7 linked regions of the Homo sapiens genome follow. The protein of the gene in region 1 purifies or fractionates together with the protein of each later gene. This does not show direct contact. Each region holds a gene or a part of one and is shown in the gene's direction. Other genes may lie near its edges.

Region 1 (3,500 bases):
ACCGCCTCACACAGAGCGTACATGGGTTCAGTGGTGCAACACACAGAATGCGCCCATCAGAGTGGCTGGCACGTCACAGACCAGTGGTGGCTGTAAGACAAGTCATCAGCTTAGAAGCCCCTCACCCTCACTGTGTCTTAGGTTATGCCACAGTTTTATGGCTTTTCCCTCTTTAAATAAATTTTGACGTTTATTGTAACCTGCTTTCACTTATATAAAAATATTGAGGGAGAACTCCCAGAATCTAATTTCCGATAGGCTCCAGGCACCCCCTTCTCCCACCATAGCCGTGGCCATCACTACAATTCACCTGAAATATGATCTTAGTATATTACGCCTAAGAATGTTTGCATTTTCCCCATTGATAAAGAGAAGTTCTAAGATATCTCAAAGCTCTGCTTCATGCTCTTCATAAAATTTAGGCACTAATCCATCCTGATTCAAACTTGTGTGTGTGGAAAGGATATGTATATTTTTTTTAAGTTTGAAAGGCTATATATCAAAATACTGATATAGTTATCTCTGGGGGTGGAGAATGGGTGATTTTATAATATGTGAATAACTTCCTGTATTTTCCAATTTTTTTTTTACAGTAAGTATATGTCACCTATGTAATTTAGGGTGGGAGGGGAAACATGCCAAATATAAAAAAGAAGACAATTTAAACAATAGACATGAATCAATAGTTAAGCCACATGTCTTCAGCATTGTACCAAGTGCATAATGAGTGCTAACAAATCCTGGTGGAGGGACGGAGCACCGCTGATCTGGCCTGCTGACTCAGCCTGTGACTCAGCTATTTTGTGTGTGTCAACTCCTCCAGTATAATAGAGACATCAGGTGGGGAATGTGGCCATCCTCACCTTCGTCACAGAACACAGGCCTGATGCCCACTATGAGGTGTCAGGCATGAGTCCTCCCTACAAGGGAGTGGGCAACCCACATAGGTCCAAGCTGTCTACCTCCTTCTACCCCCAACAACATGCATCAAACACGAATGTCTGCACCAAGTTCCTCTAGAGGCAGCAGAGTCATCCAATAAAATATTATATTTATATCTCATCTTGTTCCAATATGATCTAAAGTGTCTCACCCTGTTGTCATTTCACTAGATTATGAATGAATAAGAAGCAGGATACTTCCTGTTACACAGTTCCTTACTAAGAAAGGCTGACTTTACTGACTGCTTTATATTATCTCAAGAATCAAATTAAATGCATTACTTAGCTGGTGAGCACCTATTATTTGCAAGGCTCTGTGTCTGGGGGATGGAGAGAAGACCAACAAGATTCCATCTCCTTCCTCACTAGGGTTTATAATCTAAAGAAACAAACATGCTCACACATAGAGAACAATGAACAATATAATTGGAAACCGCCAGACAGGGAATCACCAACCACTGTGGGTGAAGAGAGACTGCAGGGGTCACACGACTTGAAAAAGGCAAAGCAAAGTCAGATGTCTCAGTTCCAGCATAAGTGTTTTAATATACCTGTTTTAGACCCAAATGTAATAAATATATTCTAAGATCTTGACGAATAGAAAGTTCAAAAACTGAGTTCCCCTTCCACCAACAGATTGACTACAAGTAAGCAAAATAGTGGTTGCTGGATTTTTTTCAAGTAACTGCACTCTTTAATACGTTGTGGCTGATTTTCAACTTAATAAATGTACAGCTGCACTGGGTTCTACTGTACGGATATTCTTTTACCCACTTAACCAATCACCTTTCCATGGACATATAGGTTACTCCTAATCGCTTGCCCCTATAACCATTGGTTCAGAGACCATCCTCAAAAATACAGTTGTACACTTACTCAACCATCTCCTAGGGGTAGATTCCTAGAAGTGAAATTGCTGAGTCAAAGGTAATACATCTTGTAAATTTTGATACATATTGCTAAATTGTCTTCAGAAAGTTTCCACTAATTTTTCTCGCCAACTGTGCATGGCAGTGCCTAGTTCCCACATTCTAAGTCTTGCAAATGGTTTTTTATCTTTGCACAAATTTTTTTTTATCTTTGCACATAGGATAGCTAACATATGATAAATAATTTTTAATTTGCATTTTTCTCGTTAGCAGTATTGAATGTTTTCATAGGTTTGTTGTTCATTTTTAAAACATCAAATAAAACATGACATTTTGATGATATCATAAGTCTATATCCATATAGCCTTATCTAGTCTGTATGTACATAAAGAGATGTAAGGCAGGATGTTTATCAGTGATTAACAGTTGCCTATATCTGGGTGGTGGGTTTTGGGATAGTTTTTTCTTTTTACAAAGTAAAGGTATATTTTTAAAAGTACAATTCTTCTTATAAGTAGCATTTTTATTACTCTTTAGAGACAGGTTCTTGCTCTGTCACCCAGACTAGAGTGCAGTGGTACAATCATAGCTCACTACAGCCTCAAACTCCTGGGGTCGAGCAATCCTCCTACCTCAGCCTCCTAAGTAGCTAGGAGGACAGGCACACACCATGGCACCTAGCTAATTAAAAAAAAAAAATTGTAGAGAATGGGTCTTGCTATGTTGCCCAGACTGGCCTCAAATTCCTGGGCTCAAGCAATCCTCCTGCCTCAGCCTCCCAAAGTGTTGTAATTACAGGCACACACCATGGCACCTAGCTAATTAAAAAAAAAAAAATTGTAGAGAATGGGTCTTGCTATGTTGCCCAGACTGGCCTCAAATTCCTGGGCTCAAGCAATCCTCCTGCCTCAGCCTCCCAAAGTGTTGTGATTACAGGCACACACCATGGCACCTAGCTAATTAAAAAAAAAATTGTAGAGAATGGGTCTTGCTATGTTGCCCAGACTGGCCTCAAACTCCTGGGCTCAAGCAATCCTCCTGCCTCAGCCTCCCAAAGTGTTGTGATTACAGGCATGAGCCACTGTGCCTGACCACAAGTAGCATCTATTTATAAGATTCTTTTTATAAGTAGCAAAAAATAAAGCTATTTTCATTTTAAAAAATCTACATTCTAGGATATGTTTCATGCTTAGGATAAATTTTGCACAAGCATATCTTCATAACAATACTCAGGTAAAATCCTGACGTTAGTGAAAATCACCAGGATAAAAGGCATTTTAGCAGCTTTTTGTTTATTCTTTAAGTCTAGCCTTCAAGTTAAAACAACAGCAACAACAACAACCCACTACATCACAGTCTGGTTTTTACCTATTTGGAATGTTTTTCCATGGTCAGGCCTGTGTGCCAGGCCACTACAGAGATGAAAGATCCAGCCCTGCCCTCAAGGTACTTACAGTCGAGCAGAATGTCCCCAGTGGGAGATTCTAGAGTCCTGAGGACTCTTAGAAGTGCTCTTATCAGTAGCATCTTAATTACTTTACAATGGATTTTAAATGGAAAGGAAGTTTACAATAATAGCAAATGCATATTGACAGCTCTTTAGTGCCCGGTGCTGTTCTAAGTCCTTATGACTACCCTGTGAAATAAGTTCCACCATGACCCCAATTTTCCTGAAAAGGAGACTGAGGCA
Region 2 (3,500 bases), on another chromosome or scaffold:
TGAATGAGACACATCTGATTGATTCGTCAACTCATAAAATGTTTTTGTTTGAGCGGTCAGGAAATGTAGAGGAGGAGGGGGGAGTTTATGACCAGCAATAAATTTATCCTTAAGTAGAAATATTAGATATTGGCTCATGGCATTAATAAATCATGCCTCCCTAGTTCTTTTTAGGTGTAAACTTCCTAAGTACATTTAGATTCATGTTTATTAAATAAAATTATTCTTAAATCAACTGCTTTTAAAAAGGCAAAGTGTGTCAAAAAGGTAAAATGCTAAAGAAATAACTGGTTAGCCAGTTTTTCTGACCTTGTAGTTAATGATGGAACACATTCAATGTAGCCAAAGGAAATGTGCTAATCATTGAATAATGGAGAGGGCATGAGGGCACGGGTTGTGAGTAGTGACATTAAAGCTGATGAGGACATAAAACAGATGATACCCTAGTCGTACCTTTTATGGAAACATCCAAAGAGCTTTGATAAGAAAAGTCACTTGATCATATGGCTGGATTGCCCATCGTTCTTCCCTTACTAGAACAAGTTACTGGGTGAATACGTTCACTAAAATGCTATGCCAGAGTTGCATCAAAACTCTCGTGCTTAAAGTTTTATATTTAGGAAATATTGCCAAACTACAAAACATGGAAGTCTTCAACTCCAGCTACTGCTTTTTTTAAAATTAAGAAATAAGATGCCAGGCATGGTGGCTCATGCCTATAATTCCAGCACTTTGGGAGGCTGAGGCAGGCAGATCACTTGAGGTCAGGAGTATGAGATCAGCCTGGCCAACATGGCAAAATCCCGTCTCTACTAAAAATACAAAAACTAGCTGGGTGTTGTGGCGCGTGCCTGTAATCCACTACTGGGGAGGCTGAAGCAGGAAAATTGCTTGAACCTGGGAGGCGGAGGTTGCAGTGAGCCAAGATTGTGCCACAGCACTCCGGCCTGGGTGACAGAGCAAGACTCCATCTCAAAAAAAAATAAAAAATAAAAAAATAAGAGCTTAATTATAAAATATGATTAATTATGTGCATTTATCTATGATTCCCACATATTTTTAAAAGATTTAAGGAAGCATAATCAATAACTTCTTTCCAGTGCAAATAATAGAAAAGCAAGTTGTCTTGAAATTTGTCTTTTGCTAAAGATGTTTACCAACTTTGCTCCCTTTTATGTGAACCTCTACCTTACTTCCCATAAACCCTAGGCTCAAAAAGTGTTACAGCATACTAGTTGGAAAACTGATTCATTCTGCTAATTATTTTTTATTTCTAAAAAATCTCTTAAAAGAGAAGCCATAACCATAAAAACTCTAGGTTTCTAAATTTTTACATCTTTATTCAGGCACTATCAATGTAAATTAATATTGATTTTTTACTTACTTTTTTGTTCAAAGTAAAAATATAAAGGAGTTCTGCAGCTTCTGTATTTTTTAAAACTAGGTGAATATTCAGTTTCAGGAATATTTAAAAACTTACAAGACCTAGCATTTCTTTCATTTTATATATATTGAGCTTAAATTTGAATTCTCTATGTTCCCTTCAATGCCCTTAAATTTTCACAAATGAAAAGCTAGTGTGAATATAATTATCCAACTCTCAAAATAAATGTTATATTATTTCCTTTTAAAAATGTTACCTAGTCCAGGTGTGGTGGTTCATACCTGTAATCCCAGCACTTTGGGAGGCCGAGGCTGGTGGATCGTCTAAGGTCAGGAGTTCGAGACCAGCCTGACCAACATGGTGAAACTCTGTCTCGTCTAAAAATACCAAAAAAAATTAGCCGGGCGTGGTGGCGCGTGCCTGTAATCCCAGCTATTCAGGAGGCTGAGGCAGGAGAATCATTTGAACCCGGGAGGTGGAGGTTGTAGTGAGCTGAGATCGTGCCATTGCACTGCAGCCAGGGCAACAAGAGCGAAACTCTGTCTCAAAAACAAAAACAAAAATAAAAACAAAAAGTTATCTAGCCAGCCAAGTTTTTTTTAATAAGAATTTCTTCCCAATTTTGACATTTTAAGTGTTTGATAATTAGAATGTGTTTAATTGGAAGCTGAAAAACTAAGCCTATGGACCATAGAAACACAAATAACACATGTTGTCACTCATGTGGGAGCTAAAAATGTTGATCTCATGGAGGTAGAGAGTAGAATGATGGTTATCAGAGGTTGGTTAACAAGTACAGAAATACAGTTAGATAGGATAAGTTCTAATATTCAGTAGTACAGTAGGGAGACTATAGTTAACAATAATTTATTGTATATTTCAAAATAGCTAGAGAAGAATTGGAATGTTCCCAACACAAAGAAAAGATATTCCTCAGCAGCAACATGGGAGGCCTGGGTTCCTTCCCTAGCCCAAAAAGAAACAAAAGGAAAGATAAATGTTTCAGGTGCTGGATATCCCAGTTACTCTGACTTGATCATTACACATTGTATACATGTGTCAAAATATCACAGGTACCATAAAAATATGTACATGTATTATGTATCACATTTTTAAAATCAGTTTTAAAAAAGATGGAGAGGAGCAGAAGCTCATAATAAAGTAACTGAAGAAAGAAAGAAATTATGTCTATGGAAACAATGTGACACAGTTTGAGCGGTCAGAATTTTAAGAAATGACTTTTTTTTTTTTTTTTTGTGAGACGGAGTCTCACTCTGTCACCATGCTGGAATGCAGTGGCACGATCTCAGCTCACTGCAACTTCTGCCTCCCAGGTTCAAGCGATTCTCCTGCCTCAGCCTCCTGAGTAGCTGGGATTACAGGCGCACGCCACCACACGGGCTAATTTTTGTATTTTCAGTAGAGACGGGGTTTCACCATGTTGGCCAGGATGGCCTCCATCTCTTGACCTTGTGATCTGCCCACCTTGGCCTCCCAAAGTGCTGGGATTACAGGCGAAAAAACGCTTCTAAACATTAAACTTCAGATTGCAGATAGCGGGGACCTAGTATGTACTCTGCATGTGAATTATAGGAGGAAGGGGAATTTGTGAAAGTTTTTTCTAAACCTTCAGGAGATTTAGATATACATAAAGACATGCTGTCTTTTTATATCATTAACATTATATTTGGAGAAGAAAGTGGTATGTAAATGGAATTTTTCCAAGTCAAATACTGTGTTTTAATGCATGATGATAGCTGAGTCTATAAATCTCACTACGTGCAGGGCAGTGAAGACCTAGTTTTTACTGCTGTCCCACTTCCGAGCTGTATGCCGGTCACTTCACCTGGATGAGCGTGTGTGTTTTTCCTAAAAACAGGAGCCATGCTGTCCACCTCACCTTAACAGAGAACTTTGAAAATGAGAGTGGTGACTGTCAAACCATTTTTAAAACAATACATAAATGTAAGACAAAAGAATTGTTAATACTTCAGAGTTAATCATTGTGCCTTAATTATGTTTTATAAAGTTGAATTCATCAAATTGTTTTTTGTTTTTTGAGACGGCGTCTGCCTCTGTCGCCCAGGCTGCAGTGCAGTGGCGTGATCTCAGCTCA
Region 3 (3,500 bases), on another chromosome or scaffold:
AGTGAGTATATTTTGGGGATCTGGGGGCAGAAAAGGGATTATTTTTATTTTTTAAGTGTGGAAATGTGGCCTGGCGCGATATCTCATGCCTGTAATCCCAGCACTTTGGGAGGCCGAGGTGGGCCAATCACCTGAGGTCAGGAATTCGAGACCAGCCTGGCCAACATGGTGAAACCCCGTCTCTACTAAAAATATAAAAATTAGCCGGGCGTGGTGATGGGCACCTATAATCCCAGCTACTTGGGAGGCTGAGGCAGGAGAATTGCTTGAACACAGGAGACGGAGGTTGCAATGAGCCGAGATCATGCCATGGCACTGCAGCCTGGGCGACAGAGTGAGACTCCATCTCAAAAAAAAAAAAAAAAAAAAGAGTGGAAATGCATTAAATTTCTTCTTTTAGCCATTGGGCTTTAGGTCTTACTATTAAAAATCTCAACTGCATTTTGATAAGTCTGTTTCTAGGCAGCATTAGCTTTAGCAACAAGGATGGAGGGGTGAATGCCTCTGAATGGGAGAGGACACTGTTGAAATAGAATTGTGAATGTCTGTTTTTCTCAAGTATCTCAAAGAATTGGTAGGAGTGGGAGAAGAGAGAAGCCTTGAAATCTTTGGAGATTTTCCATTTGCATTTCACATCAGCAGAGTGAAGCCAATGAGTATGCAGCTGGTGGCGTGATAGCCAATGCATAGTCTTGGAAAAATGGAAAAATGTTATTAAAGACATGTTTTCACAGTTTTTTTCTCTACTATTCAGTCTATTTTGTGAAAAATGTCACAAAGACTCAGTAAGTATGCTCTCTACAAAGCATTTTGGTGTTTTTTTTTATGATTACACAGGTATATTAAATACAAGTAACCGTGATGTTTAAGGAGTGTGTGCAATTAATAGAATTTAGTCTCATGGTATAAGAATGACACACGGGACAAGATACGCAATTATTAAAGGAAAATTTTTTTTAAGGGAAAAGTTAAATACGTATTTCTTTTTTTTTTTTTTTTTTTTTTTTTTTTTGAGACAGAGTCTCACTCCGTCGCCCAGGCTGGAGTGCAGTGGCATAAATGAGGCTCACTGCAACCTCCTCCCCCCGTTCAAGTGAATCTCCTGCCTCAACCTCCCGAGTAGCTGGGATTACAGTGCACACCACCACGCCTGGCTATTCTTTTTTTGTATTTTTAGTAGAGACGGGATTTCACCATGTTGGCCAGGCTGGTCTTGAACTCTTGACCTCAACTGATCCGCCTGCCTCAGCCTCCCAAAGTGCTGGGATTGCAGACGTGAGCCACTGCAACCAGCTGAGTTAAGTATGTATTTATGTGTAATTTGTTATTAAATATAAATACAGTAGACTAAATATACAACATTTTAAGTCAAGGCAAAAGCAAGGTTTTATACACATGTAATTAACTGTCTTAATCCCTGTGAGACCTCAGTTTTCTCATCTCTAAAATGATGGAGTTGAACGAGAAAAACTCTCTCTCCTTAATATTTACTTTTTCTGCACTTTAGGGTGTGGTAGGAGAAATGTGAAGATTAACTTAATAAGTAATTATTAATCCCCTGTCAAATACTTCTAATTTTATTATTGAAACATGGAATTTATTCACCTTACAGAAAGGCAAGTAATTTCTAATAGCTCATGGTAACCTGTTACCTTGAACTGAGTGTTCATTGTTTACTAGGAGTGGTATACATTGTCCTGCGTATTCGTGATCTAATGTCTATTTGTATTAGTCTGTTCTCACTCTGCTAATAAAGACATACCCAAGACTAGGTAATTTATAAAGGAAAGATGTTTGATGGACTCACAGTTCCACATGGCTGGGGAGACCTCACAATCATGGTGGAAGGCAAAGGAGAAGCAAAGGCACGTCCTACATGGTGGCAGGCAAGAGAGCTTGTACAGGGGAACTCCCATTTATGAAACCACCAGATCTTGTGAGACTTACTACCACAAGAAAAGTATAGGGGAAACCGCCCCCATGTTTCAGTTATCTCCACCTGGCCCCGCCCTTGAAATATGGGGATTATTACAGTTCAAGGTGAGATTTGGGTGAACACACAGCCAAACCATATCACTAGTATTTTTTTATATATTTTCTGATACAAGCCAGTGTAACATAAAGAACAGCTGCGTGGTAAAAATAACTTTCATTCTAGATAGAAGACTACATGACTTGATATACTGGGGGTCTTTTTAAACTATAAATCTCATAAAGTGTTTTAGTCTCCTCATATGGTTTCTGGCCTGGATCTCCATTTCCAGAGTGGGGCTTTTAACTGGTGCCTTCCGTTTGGTCCCTCTCTAGAGCACTTGAGCCTGGTCTGAGTACTGTGCAGACCACAAGCAAGAATCTAAATGAGCAGACTATGGTAGTGTTGCCTGGGTTTGGATACACTTATTATGTAACCTTGGGCAAGTTTTTTAACCTTCTGGGCTCAGTTTTCTCATCTGTAAAACTGAATATCCTAAAATAAGTTTTTAGGATTATGTGAGACACAATAAGTAGGGACTTTTTAGCATAAGGGAATGTCCATGCGTTGTGTCACATGCTAGTTATAATTCCTGGCTTTCTGCTTCTCTGAAGAATAAGGGCTTGGCACACACATTAGTTGGGCTCATCTGATAAGCTCTAGCCCAGAGGGTGGCTCAGCATATGCATGCTAAGGCCTACTTTTTCATAACAGGGGCTTTCTTCTTGTCTTGGGGTAGACTAGTTCTACGCTGAGATATTGGGAATATGTTTGTAGTCAGCTTTTCTCTAAAAGTGGATGATGTGAGAAAATATGCCATTTATTATTTCTGGCTGATGAAAGGTTCCTTACAGGGACAGGACAAATCCGTGTTAAGATGTGAAAAGCTCATCTTTCCCAGTAATTTTACCTCCACAAATCTGTCCAAAGGAAATCATTACCAGGTAAATAGTATTTAATGTCTTTGTTGAAGTCTCTTACTTATAATAGTTAAAAAAATGGAAACAACCCAAGTGTACAATAATAGAGTAATTGTTAAATAAGATTCTAATTTAGACACTGAATATCATGTGGCCATTAAAGATTTATTTGAAGGGTATTTATAACTTAGAAACTATAGTACACAAAAAGTTAGATATAAACCTATGTATAGTGAGACCTTGGTTATATTTTAAAAGGTGTGTGTGTGTATAAAGATAATGTATATATACAAATCCATACATGTCATAGAACTGTGTAGATACACATACACAAACATACACAGCATGAATACAGGTAAAACTAGGAAAATCAGAATAAGATTGGTAGATTGTATCAATATCAATATCATTGTTGTGATGTTTACTGTAGTTTTATAAATGTTACCATTGGCGGAAACTAGGAAGGGGCACAAGAGATCTTTGTATTATTTCTTACACTGTGTGTGAGTCTATAGTTATCTCAACAAAAATTTCAATCAAAAAATGGCACCAGAGCTAGATTGTTGTTTAAGTAAGTTCTGCTGATCCTTCAGAGAAAGATATGTTAT
Region 4 (3,500 bases), on another chromosome or scaffold:
TTCAGCATTCTAATCTAAGCAAGATCTTGGCTTACTGCAACCTTGACCTCCTGGTCTCAAGCACCCCTCCCACCTTAGCCTCCTAAGTAGCACACACCACCAAAACTGGCTAATTATTTTATGTTTTGTAGAGATGGGATCTCACTTTGTTGCCTAGGCTGGACTCAAACATCTGGGCTCAAGCAGTCCTCCTCTTGCCTTGGCCTCCCAACATCCTGTGATTACAGATATGAGCCACCATGCCCGACCCCCTACCCCCATTTATTTATTTGTTTGTTTGTTTGTTTGTTTGTTTTTTGAGATGGAATCTTGCTCTGTCGCCCAAACTGGAGTGCGGTGGCACACTCTCGGCTCATTGCAACCTCCACCTCCCAGGTTCAAGCGATTCTCTAGCCTCAGCTTCCCAAGTAGCTGGGACTACAGGCGTGCACCATCACACCCAGCTAATTTTTGTATTTTTAGTAGAGATGGGGTTTCAGCATGTTGACCAGTGTGGTCTTGAACTCCTGACCTCAAGTGATCCACCCACCTCGGTCTCCCAAAATGTTGGGATTACGTGCGTGAGCCACCACGCTCAGCCTCTACACCCATTTATTGTATTTGTATGGTAACAAATCATTGGTATTGTGTCTGTTATAAATCATACTAATAATAGTATGAAGTTTTTTCTACTAGTTTATAATTTATTACTGTACTTAATTATTTTGGTGCTTAAATTGTACCAGATTTGGCCAGTTGAGTATCCCCTACATCTGGCTCTTACGCGGGACAAAGTGTTTAACATAATTTCTGAGTGTGTTTTCTGTTCATTTAGAAGCAGTATTTTTATACTTTCTTATACTTCATTTTGATGAATGAAAAGGGCAAAGCATTAAACAAAATAATCCTGGTAGATCAATGAACTTTGTTTAAATAATTAATAGCACAAAGCAATCAAAGCATGTAGATATAGGTTCTCTCAGAGTAGTCCATTTTTAGGTCCATAGGATGAGGTCATTATTTTTATGTTCTTTGTGTCTCCCAGCTTCATTGCTCCAACCTCCTGGCTCTTAAAGGGCCAATTGATGTATGACATCATCCCCTCAAAATGGGCTGGAGACAGCAAAACAAAGTAATATTCTGTTCCTTCCCTTGGGAAGACTAAGTGTGCCTATGTGGTGTGCACATCTCATGAGGATGACTCTAGTGGCCATATAGAGTTCTATCTATAGAGTTAGAAGAATAACTCTAATCATCTTCATGAATTTTTTATAAGAATGATCTCAATAGAACTTGTCTTCATTAGGTTAGAAAAGGCAATAAATATTCTAAAAACTCATAATGACCTATTTACTTTTATAATTGAGAGGTTATATTTTATTCTATTCATACAACTCTTGTTTTTCTGATTCTTTTTTAAGGCATATTCCCTATATTCTTTTCTTCCCATGTTCTAATTGTCCTGTTTTCTTCAAATAGGTAATTTAATTTTATTTAAATAGGATCTCATTTTCTTGAAAATAATTCTGTATTTCTTTCCTAGCGCTACCTTGATGAAGCAGACAGAGATAAGGAGCGTTACATGAAGGAACTGGAACAGTATCAGAAAACAGAGGCCTACAAGGTCTTCAGTAGGAAAACCCAGGACCGTCAGAAAGGCAAATCTCATAGGCAAGGTATCAAAACCAGAACCAAATGTATTTGTAGTTTGTTGTGGGTGATGGAGTGTCATAAAGCCAACTGTTAAGAGTGGTAACTATAAAAGATGTGTTTCTGTTTTTTCTCCACTATCCAGTATTCACTTACAAGCATTATCTTGAAATTTTATTAAAATCACATTGCTCTCATTTAGAAATTTCAACTGGGTTTCCGTGTCTATTATCAATGATTTTGACTTGTCCTCCGAGACCCCTGTTAGTTGCCTGCCCTTCTTTTCCTGATTCCCAGTTTAGGCATTTCTCTGCCTGTAAGCAAGCCTATCTACAAAATTATATCAGTAACTTCCCTTTAACACTTCTAAGCCTTTCATGTGTCATTTTTGAAGCACCATCCACAACTAGCCTATTTTTCCTTAGCCATTGCATCTTCTCTATACTTGGGCATCTAGCCTGCTAAAATTATAGATGTTGTATAAGTAGTCTTTGGTTTGTGTCTTCTGTCCACTCTTCCACCCTTTTCTCCCTAAAGTTAAGAACTGTGTCTGCTGTTTCTCTTATGCCTAATTATGAATTCTGTAGGCATGGGGTTCCCTTACTTTTGTTGGCTGACCGATTAATAAAGCCTTAAGGAAAAATATCATATGTTATGAGAATCTACATATACAAGCAGGTTTTATAGTTTGGCAGAGTCGTATACTTGGGTTTTGTTATTGCTTTCTTTTTAAATGTAATGTTCTCTTATTCTTTTATATTTTTAGATGCAGCCCGGCAGGCCACTCATGATCATGAGGTAATTAGCCATCTGTCTACATATCATATATATGTATTTATAATAATGTTGCTTTTTGAAATGCTATTGGATTTTTTTTTTTTTAATGAATGGCAAAGTATTTCCTATCTCGTAATTCAGATTAAATGAGATACTTTAGCTTGGGGGTTCTTAGCATATGGCAGACACTTACGTTGTGTGTCTGTCATTGAACTACAGCCCCTAACCTCAATCCTTTCCTGTGATCTGAGAATTTTATTGGCTTTAAATGCCAAAGATGGCTGGAATTTGGAATGAAGTATAGAAATGAGGGCTAGCTGAAAGCTATAACATGACCATAGTTTATCATCACCAAATACTTAAATCTGACTCTCAGAAAAGTTGTTATTTAAAGAATCCAGCATTTGCTTAAAGCGAACTGTTCAACTACAATGTCGATAGAGCACAAGCGACAGTATCTCAGGTTTGTTTTTTGTTTTGTTTTGTTTTTTGTTTTTTTGAGATAGAGTCTCACTCTGTCGCCCAGGCTGGAGTGCAGTGGCACAATCTCAGCCCACTGCAACCTCCGCCTCCCGGGTTCAAGCAATTCTCCTGCCTCAGCCTCCCGAGTAGCTGGGACTACAGGCTCGTGCCATCATACCCGGCTAATTTTCTGTATTTTTAGTAGAGACAGGGTTTCATCATATGAGCCAGGATGGTCTCGATCTCCTGACCTCATGATCCACCCGCCTTGGCCTCCCAAAATGCTGGGATTACAGGCGTGAGCCACCACGCCCGGCCCAGTATCTCAGTTCTCACACCTCCTTTCCTATTCCCTCACTTCACTAGCACATGTTTGTGTACTGGCTTCTTTCCTCCCACTTGGTTCAGCCCCATTGTTAGGATTTAGGCCTGTGTTTCTGTGTGTGTATGGGATTTAGGTGTGTGTGTTGTTTCAAATTCTGTTTTCTCCTTCAAACTTTTCTTGTTTCCTCTAACTTCCTTTAACCCTCATGGCTCTCTATACTTGTGTTATGTGCTTAGCTGATCTGACCTAGGGGTTTTGAGGTAATTCAAGGGCTCACACTCTTTGGTTGTAATGTCTTTGTGGACAT
Region 5 (3,500 bases), on another chromosome or scaffold:
CTGGAGTACAGTGGCGTGATCATGGTTCACTACAGCCTCAAACTCCTGGGCTCAAGCAATCCTCCTGCCTCAGCCTCCCAAGTGGCTGGAACTACACCCCACTGGGCACTACCATGCCCAACTAGTTTTTAGAAATTTTTAGTAAAGACAGGGTCTTGCTGTGTTGCCCAGGCTGATCTCGAACTCTTAGACTTAAGAGATCCTCCTGCCTTGGTTCCCCAAAATGCTGGGATTACGGGCATAAGCCACCATGCTGGCCTTTTTTTTATGTTCTGATCAAACAGCTCAGATTGTAATGCCTATACCTTTCCACAGTGCTACACTACATAAGAGCTTTCTCGTACCATTCACTCTCCTGCACGCATGTCTTTCCATCACATCCCCGCAATCCCATGTACACACACCCCACGCTGCCTCTCACTCCTGACGGGCAGGACCCTGCCTCTCGCCCACAGGGGAAGCCTTGGGCATCAAGTACCCGGTCCAGGTCCCCTACAAGCGGATCAAGAGTAACCCCGGCTCCGTGATCATCGAGGGGCTGCCCCCAGGAATCCCGTTCCGAAAGCCCTGTACCTTCGGCTCCCAGAACCTGGAGAGGATTCTTGCTGTGGCTGACAAGATCAAGTTCACAGTCACCAGGTACTCAGTGGGAAGGGTGAGGGTGAAGAGGCAGGACTAGCTCAGATGGGAGCTTGCACCTGCGAATCCTTAGCCTTTCCCTAGGTCCTGCCCTCCCCCCTGGACAAGGTGGCTCTCCTGGCACCATCCTGGGTCCTGGGGGTGGTTGGAGAGGGACTGCAGGCCAGCCCAAGTGAAGGGAGCCCTTCAGAAGTGGGACTGGTCACCCCCCCATGGCAAGGGCAGCCTTTGAGGGCATCTTCAACCTGTTCAGCAACACCCGCTCACTGCACCCCCAGCCCCCGGGAAAGGTATTCAGCCCCCATCAGAGGGATTTGCCCAAGGTCCCGGGGCCAGCCAGGGCAAAGCCTGCACAAGGCCCAGGTCTGCGTCCTGCAGAGTGACACTGCCAATGCCAGCACCCTGCCACATTGTCTCAGTGTCCCGCACACACAGAGCCCCAGGGCAGCTTGTTAAAATGCAGATTCTGCTGCTGTAGGTCTGGGGTGCTCCCAGGGGAGACCGAGGCCACTGAATCCCAGGGGTGTCTTCCTCATCCCCCAGGCCCTCCCCATGACACCCCTGCCTCTGTTTCTCTTCTAGGCCTTTCCAAGGACTCATCCCAAAGCCTGGTAAGAGGCACTGGCTGTGGAGGGGGCACTGGGAATAGGGCCCGATCGTGGTGCTGGGGACTGGAGCTAAGCCTGCTGTGGGGCACAGGTTCTGGGGTCTGGGAACAGAAGCCAGGCCCCTGCCTTTCTTTTTTTTTTTTCTGAGGCAGAGTCCTTCTCTGTCACCCAGGCTGGAGTGCAGTGGCTTCATCTCGGTTCACTGCAACCTCCACCTCCTGGATTCAAGCAATTCTCCTGCCTCAGACTCCTGAGTAGCTGGGATTACAGGCAATTGTCACCATACCTGGCTATTTTTTGTATTTTTGGTAGAGACGGGGTTTCACCATGTTGGCCAGGGCTGGTCTCAAACTCCTGACCTCAAGTGATCCACCCACCTCGGCCTCCCAAAGCGTTGGGATTACAGGCGTGAGCCACTGCGCCCGGCCTAGGCCTCTGCCCTTCTGTTTAGCCACCTTACCTGGGCTCCTGCCCCAGGTAGATGGAGGAAGACTAAGCTTGAATGTGGCCCCAGATCCTGGGACAGAGAAAGGGGTGGTGGCGTCAGTGACTTCTAAGTTTTACCCAGTCTGGGTTCAGGAGGGAGGGGCCAGGCCGAGTCAGTGCACCTGCTCCTCCTGATAAAGGGGCTCTGGTTGACCTCAGTGAATAGGCGAGGTTGGAGGTGAGTGGGTTCCTAACCGCAGAAGGAGGGGTGTCTGCATGGGGACCACAAGCATGTTGGTAAGATGTGGGTGGCGCCTACCCTGCCTTAAACAGTGCAGTGCCTCTCCTGACCCTTTTTAAAAAAATATTTTATATATATAATAAAATATATACATAATAAAAAATATATATAATAAAAATATTATATATAATTAAAAATATTTATATAATTAAAATATTATATATAATTAAAAATATTATATATATAATAAAAAATATTATATAGAGAGAGAGAGAGACAGAGACAGACCAAGTCTCACTTTGTTGCCCAGGCTGGAATGCAATGGCACTATCTCTGCTCACTGCAAACTCCACCTCCCAGGTTCAAGCTATTCTGCCTCAGCCTACCAAGTAGCTGGGATTATAGGTGGGCACCACCATGCCCGGCTAATTTTTGTGTTTTTAGTAGAGCTGGGTTTCACCATATTGGCTAGGCTGGTCTCAAACTCCTGGCCTCAAGTGATCCTCCTGCCTCAGCCTCCCAAAGTGCTGGGATTACAGGCATGAGCCACCACACCCGACCTCCTGACCCTTTTTAAGGCACCCATCCACTTCTGTCTCCACCATGGACTGTGTCCTGGCCTCCCAAACCCAGATTTGCAGGGGCTGTCCCTGCAGGGTGATCCCAAACCCAGATTTGCAGGGGCTGTCCCTGCGGGGCGACATGCCACTTGGCAAGCACTAAGGGCTGGCCAGAGCCTCCAGGGCGGGCCAGGCACGGTGGCTCACACCTGTAATCCCAGCACTTTGGGAAGCCAAGGCAGGAGGATCACTTGAGGTCAGGAGTTCGAGATCAGCCTGACCAACATGGTGAAACCCCATGTCTATTTAAAATCCCAAAATTAGCCAGGTGTGGTGGCGCACACCTGTAATCCCAGCTACTTGGGAGGCTGAGGCAGGAGAATCACTTGAACCCGGGAGGCAGAGGTTGCAGTGAGCCGAGATCGCGCGACTGCACTCCACCTTGGGCGACGGGACTAGATTGTCTCAAAAAAAAAAAAAAAAAAAGAACTTAGGGTACAGTGATGTGGCGGCTGCTGACAGGCCACGGGAACCCCCAGAAGGGGGATCAGGAGGGTGAGGGGTAGTTGGAGAGGGTTTCCTGGAGTAAGGATGGCCCTGCTTGGGCCTCAGGGGAAGATGGGACTTTGAGAGGCAGAGAGGAGGGTGGGTTTGGCGGGGTGAACGGCAGGGGTTGGGGGGTCACTGGATGCCAGAAGTGTGTTTCCGGAGCTCTCGGAGGGGCAGAGTGGTCAGATGATGTTGGAAAGGTGGAGAGAGTGGAAGCTGCAGCAGCACAGTGCAGTGAGTGTGGCTCCAGTGGACACCCGGCTGAGAGGTCACTGGGTTTCTGGCCCTGCACTGGTGCTTTATGCGGGTGCCTTTCACACATATTTTGGGAGGTCCTGCTGGGACAAGGTGGTATTCTAGAGGAACTAGGGTTACAGCAGAGTGCAGACAGAGGAGGCATCTCATTTAGTCTTCATAGCTAGGAGGTTGACGCTAGAGCCCACCTTACAGAGGGGGAGACTGAGGCTCGGTGTGAGT
Region 6 (3,500 bases), on another chromosome or scaffold:
GAAGATGAAAGAGACAGACACCTCAGTTTTTCTGGATCAGGCATTGATGATGATGAAGATTTTATCTCCAGCACCAGTAAGAATAATCAATTACAGTACAGCCATTTATGCAAGGCTTATTGATTAATCTGAGTGATACCAAATTGTATCTCTCTTGAGAAGTAGTTAATGTGAAAAATGGGTGAACCTATGATCATACCTTAGTTATATCTTGATGAGATTATGGAAGAAGAAATAGAATGTTTTGAGAAGTGGGGAAAATATCTCACAAAATTTCTCTTGTCTCATGTTCTTCCTGTTTTATTTATCTATGGGATCTACTGCTACAGATTGTCTTTGAATGATCAGGCTTTATCAGAGAATGACATTAAAACAGTACAAAAAATGTACATTGTGTACTTACTGTGCTAGGTGCTGGAAACACGAAGATGAAAAGAGCCAGAGCCTTTGCTTTTCAGAAGCTCATGGTCTGTTGGAGCAATAGACTTGAAGAATGTGATGAGGAGGGTATTAATTAAAAGTTGTAGGCCAGGCGTGGTGGCTCACACCTGTAATCCCAGCACCCTGGGAGGCCGAGGCGGGCAGATGACGAGGTCAGGAGATCGAGACCATCCTGGCTAACACAGTGAAACCCCATCTCTACTAAAAAATACAAAAAATTAACCAGGCGTAGTGGCGGGTGCCTGTAGTCCTAGCTATTCGGGAGGCTGAGGCAGGAGAATGGTGTGAACCCAGGAGGAGATCGCGCCACTGCACTCCAGCACTCTAACCTGGGTGACAGAGCCAGACTCCATCTCAAAAAAAAAAAAAAAAAGTTGTGGAAGTTCCTAAATTGAAGGCCCTAAAGGCTTAAATGATGGGAGCTAGAACTCAAGAATTATCTTAGTTAATCAAAGCCCAGCTGAGGTCAAAGGAACAAATCCAGAGTTTTAACAAATGAGCTGGACACCAATATAGCAGAAAGACCTTGAAGGGAAGGGCAAATGTCAGGTTAGCTTTAGCAAGACATTGCCACTTATTAAAAGCAAATAATGAAACCACTATTGGTACATAATAGTATCCAAATTTTTGACAATTATAAAACTTTTTGAGAACAAAGAGATGGAAATTGAGCTTTAAAGATATCCTTAAAAAGTTAAAAACATGCAAAGGTTGGTCTAATATTCTGCCAGATTACTGAGTTTTCCACACATACCTGTAATGACTTAAGATTTTGCTGAACAGAGCTGAGAATCCTGAACCTGACTCCATCACAGTTCTGCTTTTCCTTAGAAAAAAGGCTTTTGGGGTGCTGTGTGAGCTCTCCCAATTCACTGAAGTTCTATCCATTCCATTAAAATCTGAGAATTTCATCCTCAAATGGACAGAGAAGAAAGGGTCCAGAAAAAAAAATAGCTTAGGCCTTGAAGGCATCTGAGTATATAACATTGATATGACAAATACTCAAAAGGAACTAGAATTTTCTATCTAAACTTTTAAGTGATTTTTTTTTTAGACCCGACACCCCTCCAGAGCTTAATCTATGGAATAAGAAAATTCCTTTTGGTAACTTCAGAACAAAAACCAAATAATCAAAAACACTGGAGTTTTACATTATACTGTCTCCTGTGTTCAGCATGTGGCCCAGCTTTGCAGATGGGCCCATCAGTAAATACGTGGTCTTGATACTGAAGAAATTAAATTCCCTTGGGTGGTAACCCAAACAGATCTACCTGTAAATGAATTGTATGGTCAGGCTTCAGGGAAAAATTTCCCATGGTGTTGTTTTTTTTTTTTTTTTTTTTTTTTTTTAATTTTTTAAATCTCTATGGCATATTTTTCCAATTTCTGCTTTTCTTTTTTTTTCTTTTCTGCTTAGCACCTATGGACATAATTCAACATGATGCCCTCTTTCTTCTGGAGGGGTGTGATAACTGCTTGATAATAAGCACTTTTTCAGGCCTATTGAGAATGTGGTTAATGATTCTAAACTTGATTTTTCATAACTTGTAAAATAGAGCTGACAGTATTATAGTTCTGAAAACAGTTTTGCGTTATTTGGGTATCAAAATAAAGTTTGAAACAATTAGGATGGATTTGCAAATAACCTTTCACAAAACATGTTGACTCAGATTTTGTCATGATCCTTCTGTTAGGTGCATCTCTTATTCCAGCCCTAACAGATTGGGTGACAATATCAGGGTGCTGGTGGATGTACGCCTCTTTCTTTCCAGTGTGCTGCTATGATGGTGGCTGGTTACCTGTGGTGTCTTATTTTCTTTCACTGGCTATGAATGGCTTGCTCATGACATATTTTGTATTTGATGAGAATACCATAGTGTTTGATAAATATTCAGAAATGTATCGCTAAAACATATGGCTATTCTAGGTATTCTTTTTCAGAATCATCTATAGGAAAGCTCTAGCTGCTCAGGCATTCCTTTCCCCACTGAAATTACTAACAACATAAAGTGATTATCATGGTATAACTTTCAGTTATCTGCCTCTTCACCCGGAGGATCTACAAACAGCACACAGTGACTAAGTCCCTGGGCTTTCAAGTGCAGAGGGATACTACAGACTGCATGGATGGGCAAAATGGCGCCTTTGGTTATCCTCGGTGGAGGGCTGGTGTTTTCAAAGCTGTCCTTCCTACTGCTGCAGCTTCTTTGACTGTTTTATCTGGAAGATCTCATGTTCTGAACCCCAAGGTATTCTATGACAGAATGCAAAGGACACTGAGATGCTTACCAATATGGCTGAATTAAGCTGAAGTCACCCTCCGCTTTCCCTCCATTTCCATGCAGCCATCTATACAACCTGGTATAGATGATTCATTGCATAGCCTACAGAAGCAAGACTATGTGCGGGACAAGTGGCGAAGGCTCAAGAAATAACATTTTTCTAATTGCTTCAATCATCGTTATCACAGTTTCAACCACACCACGGGCTTTTGACCACACAAAACAGAACCAGGACTGGACCCAGTGGAACCCAAGCCATTCAAATCCGGAAGTGCTACTTCAGACAACCACAAGGATGACTGGTAATGGGTTCTGCATATTTAATGAAAGATTTTTTTCCCCTCAAAGCCCATGATGCTGCAAAGGTCAATCATCGAGGCACAGTGGGAAATTTAGTTAATATCTGATCAAGAAATTCTTAGTGGACTTTTATGAGGATACTTAATTCCATTTAGGAGTCATTTATCAATTATACCATGTGGGCACAGGATTTTTTATGTTGCTTCATGATAAAAATGAATATGTTTGAATGGTTTGTGGTTCTGCCTTTGACAAACTGATCATAGTGGAATAATAAGGGAACATGAAGAAATTCCAAGCCCATTGATTTTCTCTTGAGACCAATTAGGTAAAGTCACTCAAAATTTTTGAGAGTGGATGCTCAGAGGTAACACTTTGGCATAGAATTGTTAAATAGCATGCACTTTAATGGAAGAATAGAATCATTAAAGATTGGTTGATAACAAGTCACAGTGTATTTAACCATCATCACAGCAG
Region 7 (3,500 bases), on another chromosome or scaffold:
GTGGTTTTTTTATTATTTTATTTTATTTTATTTTATTTTATTTTATTTTATTTTATTTTTTTGAGAGAGAGTCTCGCTCTGTCACCCAGGCTGGAGTGCAGTGGCGCGTGATCTCGGCTCACTGCAAGCTCCGCCTTCCGGGTTCACACCATTCTCCTGCCTCAGCCTTCTGAGTAGCTAGGACTACAGGCACACCCGCCACCAGGCCGGCTAATTTTTTGTATTTTTTTTAGTAGAGACGGGGTTTCACCGTGTTAGCCAGGATGGTCTCGATCTCCTGACCTCGTGATCCGACCGTCTCAGCCTCCCAAAGTGCTGGGATTATAGGCATGAGCCACCGCGCCTGGCCAGTCATGGTGTGGTTTAAATGAGACAGTGTCTATGGAAAGTACTTGTGAGCACACGGAAGACGTCCTGTAGAAGGGAGGTGTCTCACTGTCATCCGCATCCTTGGGCGCAGCCTGGGTAGTAAAGCTTGCTGGTTCCCTATGGGCCAGAGGAGCTCATCATCAAGAAGTCATGGGTGGGTCAATGGGCCTCCAGCTTGTGGTTAGAGGCTGGGGAGGGAAGAAGCCATATTCGGCTGGCCATGTGGAGGCAGAAGGGTGTGGCCCTAGTCCCAGAAAGGCCACCTGTCGGCCGTCCCCACTAGGGCCTGGTCACAGCCCAGAGCCTTCTGCCCCAGGGCTACAGGTTACAGCCCAAGAGTTCAGGCCTCTGAGCAGCCGCTCTGTGTCCAGTGCCCGGCAGCACCCGGCCCATCCGCATCGAGCCCTCCTCCTCACACGTGGCGGAAGGGCAGACCCTGGATCTGAACTGCGTGGTGCCCGGGCAGGCCCACGCCCAGGTCACGTGGCACAAGCGTGGGGGCAGCCTCCCTGCCCGGCACCAGGTATGGCAGCCCCCCGGGACCACCTTGCTGGAGGGGCTGGATGGGACTGTTCCAGCCCCCTCCCAACCCACCCCATTTGCACACAGACCCACGGCTCGCTGCTGCGGCTGCACCAGGTGACCCCGGCCGACTCAGGCGAGTATGTGTGCCATGTGGTGGGCACCTCCGGCCCCCTAGAGGCCTCAGTCCTGGTCACCATCGAAGCCTCTGTCATCCCTGGTGAGTGACTCCCAGTGACATGGAAAGCTGGAGGAGGCAGAGAGGCCTCCGGGGTGGTGAGATCCAAGGGACCCCTCTTGCTGACAGGGCAGAAGGCCCACACCGGAGCTGGCTGCAGGGCCCTGCCCAGGCCGACTCCACCTGTCAGAGTAACCACCGCCTTCCCGTCACACTTTGCTTTGGCCACATGACTCCTCAGGCGTCCCCTCCCACCTCCTCTTCCTCTCTCCAACTCATCTCTGCCCTCATCTCTCTCACTTCCTCACTCCCCTCTGCAAGGCGTGGCCCATGCCCTGGTCCTCCCATCAGGGTTGCTGAGCTGAGGGCATCAAGTCCAGGCCCCCAGATGCCTGAAAAGCTGGATCTGGCCTTGAAACCCTGGGCTGAGCTAGCTGCAGGGTGGGCAACCCCTGCCCTCTCATCTCAGGAGCATCTACAACTCTCACTCCCATCCCCACTGCTGCAGGACCCATCCCACCTGTCAGGATCGAGTCTTCATCCTCCACAGTGGCCGAGGGCCAGACCCTGGATCTGAGCTGCGTGGTGGCAGGGCAGGCCCACGCCCAGGTCACATGGTACAAGCGTGGGGGCAGCCTCCCTGCCCGGCACCAGGTACAGGGCACCAAGAATGTGGGACGGGGCCATGGACAGTGGGTTGCAGGATCCTGGCCCCTAGGCTGAGGGGCTGGCACTTCCTAGATCGGGGGGACAGCGGTGGGGCATTTGCTGGCCTCCGGGAAGCCCCCCTCACACCTCTGCCCACGGCTGCCCAGGTTCGTGGCTCCCGCCTGTACATCTTCCAGGCCTCACCTGCCGATGCGGGACAGTACGTCTGCCGGGCCAGCAACGGCATGGAGGCCTCCATCACGGTCACAGTAACTGGGACCCAGGGGGCCAACTTAGCCTACCGTGAGTGGGGCCACCAGGCTGGGCTGGGATGCAGAGAACAGGCTGGAGTGGCTTCAGAGAACAGGAGTGACCGGTGACCATCTTATCCCTCAGCTGCCGGCAGCACCCAGCCCATCCGCATCGAGCCCTCCTCCTCGCAAGTGGCGGAAGGGCAGACCCTGGATCTGAACTGCGTGGTGCCCGGGCAGTCCCATGCCCAGGTCACGTGGCACAAGCGTGGGGGCAGCCTCCCTGTCCGGCACCAGGTATGGGACTGGAGGACAGACAGGCCAAGAAGAGGAAGCGGGTCCCTGGGTGGCGGAGGTTATTGGGGGAGGGCTAGAGGCTCCCCTGAGATCAGGAAGCCCTGGACCCCATTGCACAGATGTATAGTGCAGTGGTTAGAAACCAGAATCTAGGACTGACTAACCTGGGTGTGAATTCTGGCTCCACCACTTAGCTTGTGACCTCGGACAAGTTACTTAACCTCTCTGTGCTATAGTTTCAGGGCCTATAAAATGGTAACAATGGTACGTACCAGCCGGGCACGGTGGCTTACGCCTGTAATCCCAGCACTTTGGGAGGCCGAGGTGGGCGAATCGCCTGAGGTCGGGAGTTCGAGACCAGCCTGGCCAGTATGGTGAAACCCCATCTCTATTAAAAATATAAAAATTAGCCGGGCATAGTGGCAGGCGCCTGTAATCCCAGCTACTCGGGAAGCTGAGGCAGGAGAATCGCTTGAACCCAGGAGGCGGAGGCTGCAGTGAGCCAAGATCACGCCATTGCACTCCAGCCTGGGCAACAGAGCGAGACTCAGTCTCAAAAAAAAAAAAAAAAGTACCTCACAGAATTATCTTAAAGATTAAAATATATGCAAAATCCTCAGAGCTTAGGCTCACAGAAAGTACTCTAAGCTGTTAATATTTTACTATAATGCCATTAGCTATTGTTGTTACCATATTTTGTAGAATTTAGGATACCACTGATTGCGAGATCCGCTATGATTTTATGTACCTCTAAGAAAAAGCTTCTATTTGTAAGGTTATTCATTGTAGATGCATCTTGATTTTGGAGACATCGAAATGTGTGTCTAGAATTGATGGGATGTGGTGTGAGTGTGTACCCAGCTCACTGGGGCTCCTCTGGTCTACCACCCCGCTGCTGGACAAGAGTCCCCCTTCCCCATGTGAAGGACAGGGAAACTGATCCAGAGCTGATGGCCAGGCCTTGGGGGTCAGAGTGAGGCAGGGTTGCAGGTTATAGGAACAGGGGTCTCCTGAGGGCTCCCTCTGACTCACCCCCATTCTGGCCAGACCCACGGCTCCCTGCTGAGACTCTACCAAGCGTCCCCCGCCGACTCGGGCGAGTACGTGTGCCGAGTGTTGGGCAGCTCCGTGCCTCTAGAGGCCTCTGTCCTGGTCACCATTGAGCCTGCGGGCTCAGTGCCTGGTGAGTAGCTCTCAGGGAGGGCAGGGCTGGGGACCCAGGGTGGGAGGCCCCC

Evidence for each region.
Region 2: the proteins of FGF1 (region 1) and KLHL7 purify together in Homo sapiens (affinity purification with mass spectrometry; one large-scale study listed by BioGRID and IntAct). This does not show direct contact.
Region 3: the proteins of FGF1 (region 1) and SDC2 purify together in Homo sapiens (affinity purification with mass spectrometry; 2 studies listed by BioGRID and IntAct, with this or other methods). This does not show direct contact.
Region 4: the proteins of FGF1 (region 1) and HMG20A purify together in Homo sapiens (affinity purification with mass spectrometry; 3 studies listed by BioGRID and IntAct, with this or other methods). This does not show direct contact.
Region 5: the proteins of FGF1 (region 1) and GTF2IRD1 purify together in Homo sapiens (affinity purification with mass spectrometry; one large-scale study listed by BioGRID and IntAct). This does not show direct contact.
Region 6: the proteins of FGF1 (region 1) and CD44 purify together in Homo sapiens (co-immunoprecipitation; one large-scale study listed by IntAct). This does not show direct contact.
Region 7: the proteins of FGF1 (region 1) and HSPG2 purify together in Homo sapiens (affinity purification with mass spectrometry; one large-scale study listed by BioGRID and IntAct). This does not show direct contact.

Annotation. Positions count from the first base shown.
Region 1 is NC_000005.10:142,595,591-142,599,090, reverse strand, and holds part of FGF1 (fibroblast growth factor 1 isoform 1 precursor), read left to right. Parts: intron 1-3,500. UniProt on the Homo sapiens protein: Plays an important role in the regulation of cell survival, cell division, angiogenesis, cell differentiation and cell migration. Functions as a potent mitogen in vitro. Acts as a ligand for FGFR1 and integrins.
Region 2 is NC_000007.14:23,168,285-23,171,784, forward strand, and holds part of KLHL7 (kelch-like protein 7), read left to right. Parts: intron 1-3,500. UniProt on the Homo sapiens protein: Substrate-specific adapter of a BCR (BTB-CUL3-RBX1) E3 ubiquitin ligase complex. The BCR(KLHL7) complex acts by mediating ubiquitination and subsequent degradation of substrate proteins. Probably mediates 'Lys-48'-linked ubiquitination.
Region 3 is NC_000008.11:96,500,313-96,503,812, forward strand, and holds part of SDC2 (syndecan-2 precursor), read left to right. Parts: intron 1-3,500. UniProt on the Homo sapiens protein: Cell surface proteoglycan which regulates dendritic arbor morphogenesis.
Region 4 is NC_000015.10:77,469,388-77,472,887, forward strand, and holds part of HMG20A (high mobility group protein 20A), read left to right. Parts: intron 1-1,522; coding exon 1,523-1,655; intron 1,656-2,395; coding exon 2,396-2,427; intron 2,428-3,500. UniProt on the Homo sapiens protein: Plays a role in neuronal differentiation as chromatin-associated protein. Acts as inhibitor of HMG20B. Overcomes the repressive effects of the neuronal silencer REST and induces the activation of neuronal-specific genes.
Region 5 is NC_000007.14:74,558,406-74,561,905, forward strand, and holds part of GTF2IRD1 (general transcription factor II-I repeat domain-containing protein 1), read left to right. Parts: intron 1-455; coding exon 456-639; intron 640-1,221; coding exon 1,222-1,250; intron 1,251-3,500. UniProt on the Homo sapiens protein: May be a transcription regulator involved in cell-cycle progression and skeletal muscle differentiation. May repress GTF2I transcriptional functions, by preventing its nuclear residency, or by inhibiting its transcriptional activation.
Region 6 is NC_000011.10:35,198,171-35,201,670, forward strand, and holds part of CD44 (CD44 antigen isoform 1 precursor), read left to right. Parts: coding exon 1-76; intron 77-2,475; coding exon of another isoform or gene 2,476-2,747; exon of another isoform or gene 2,748-2,911; coding exon 2,912-3,025; exon of another isoform or gene 3,026-3,497; coding exon of another isoform or gene 3,498-3,500. UniProt on the Homo sapiens protein: Cell-surface receptor that plays a role in cell-cell interactions, cell adhesion and migration, helping them to sense and respond to changes in the tissue microenvironment.
Region 7 is NC_000001.11:21,850,311-21,853,810, reverse strand, and holds part of HSPG2 (basement membrane-specific heparan sulfate proteoglycan core protein isoform b precursor), read left to right. Parts: intron 1-740; coding exon 741-892; intron 893-978; coding exon 979-1,111; intron 1,112-1,577; coding exon 1,578-1,723; intron 1,724-1,884; coding exon 1,885-2,020; intron 2,021-2,113; coding exon 2,114-2,265; intron 2,266-3,312; coding exon 3,313-3,448; intron 3,449-3,500. UniProt on the Homo sapiens protein: Integral component of basement membranes. Component of the glomerular basement membrane (GBM), responsible for the fixed negative electrostatic membrane charge, and which provides a barrier which is both size- and charge-selective.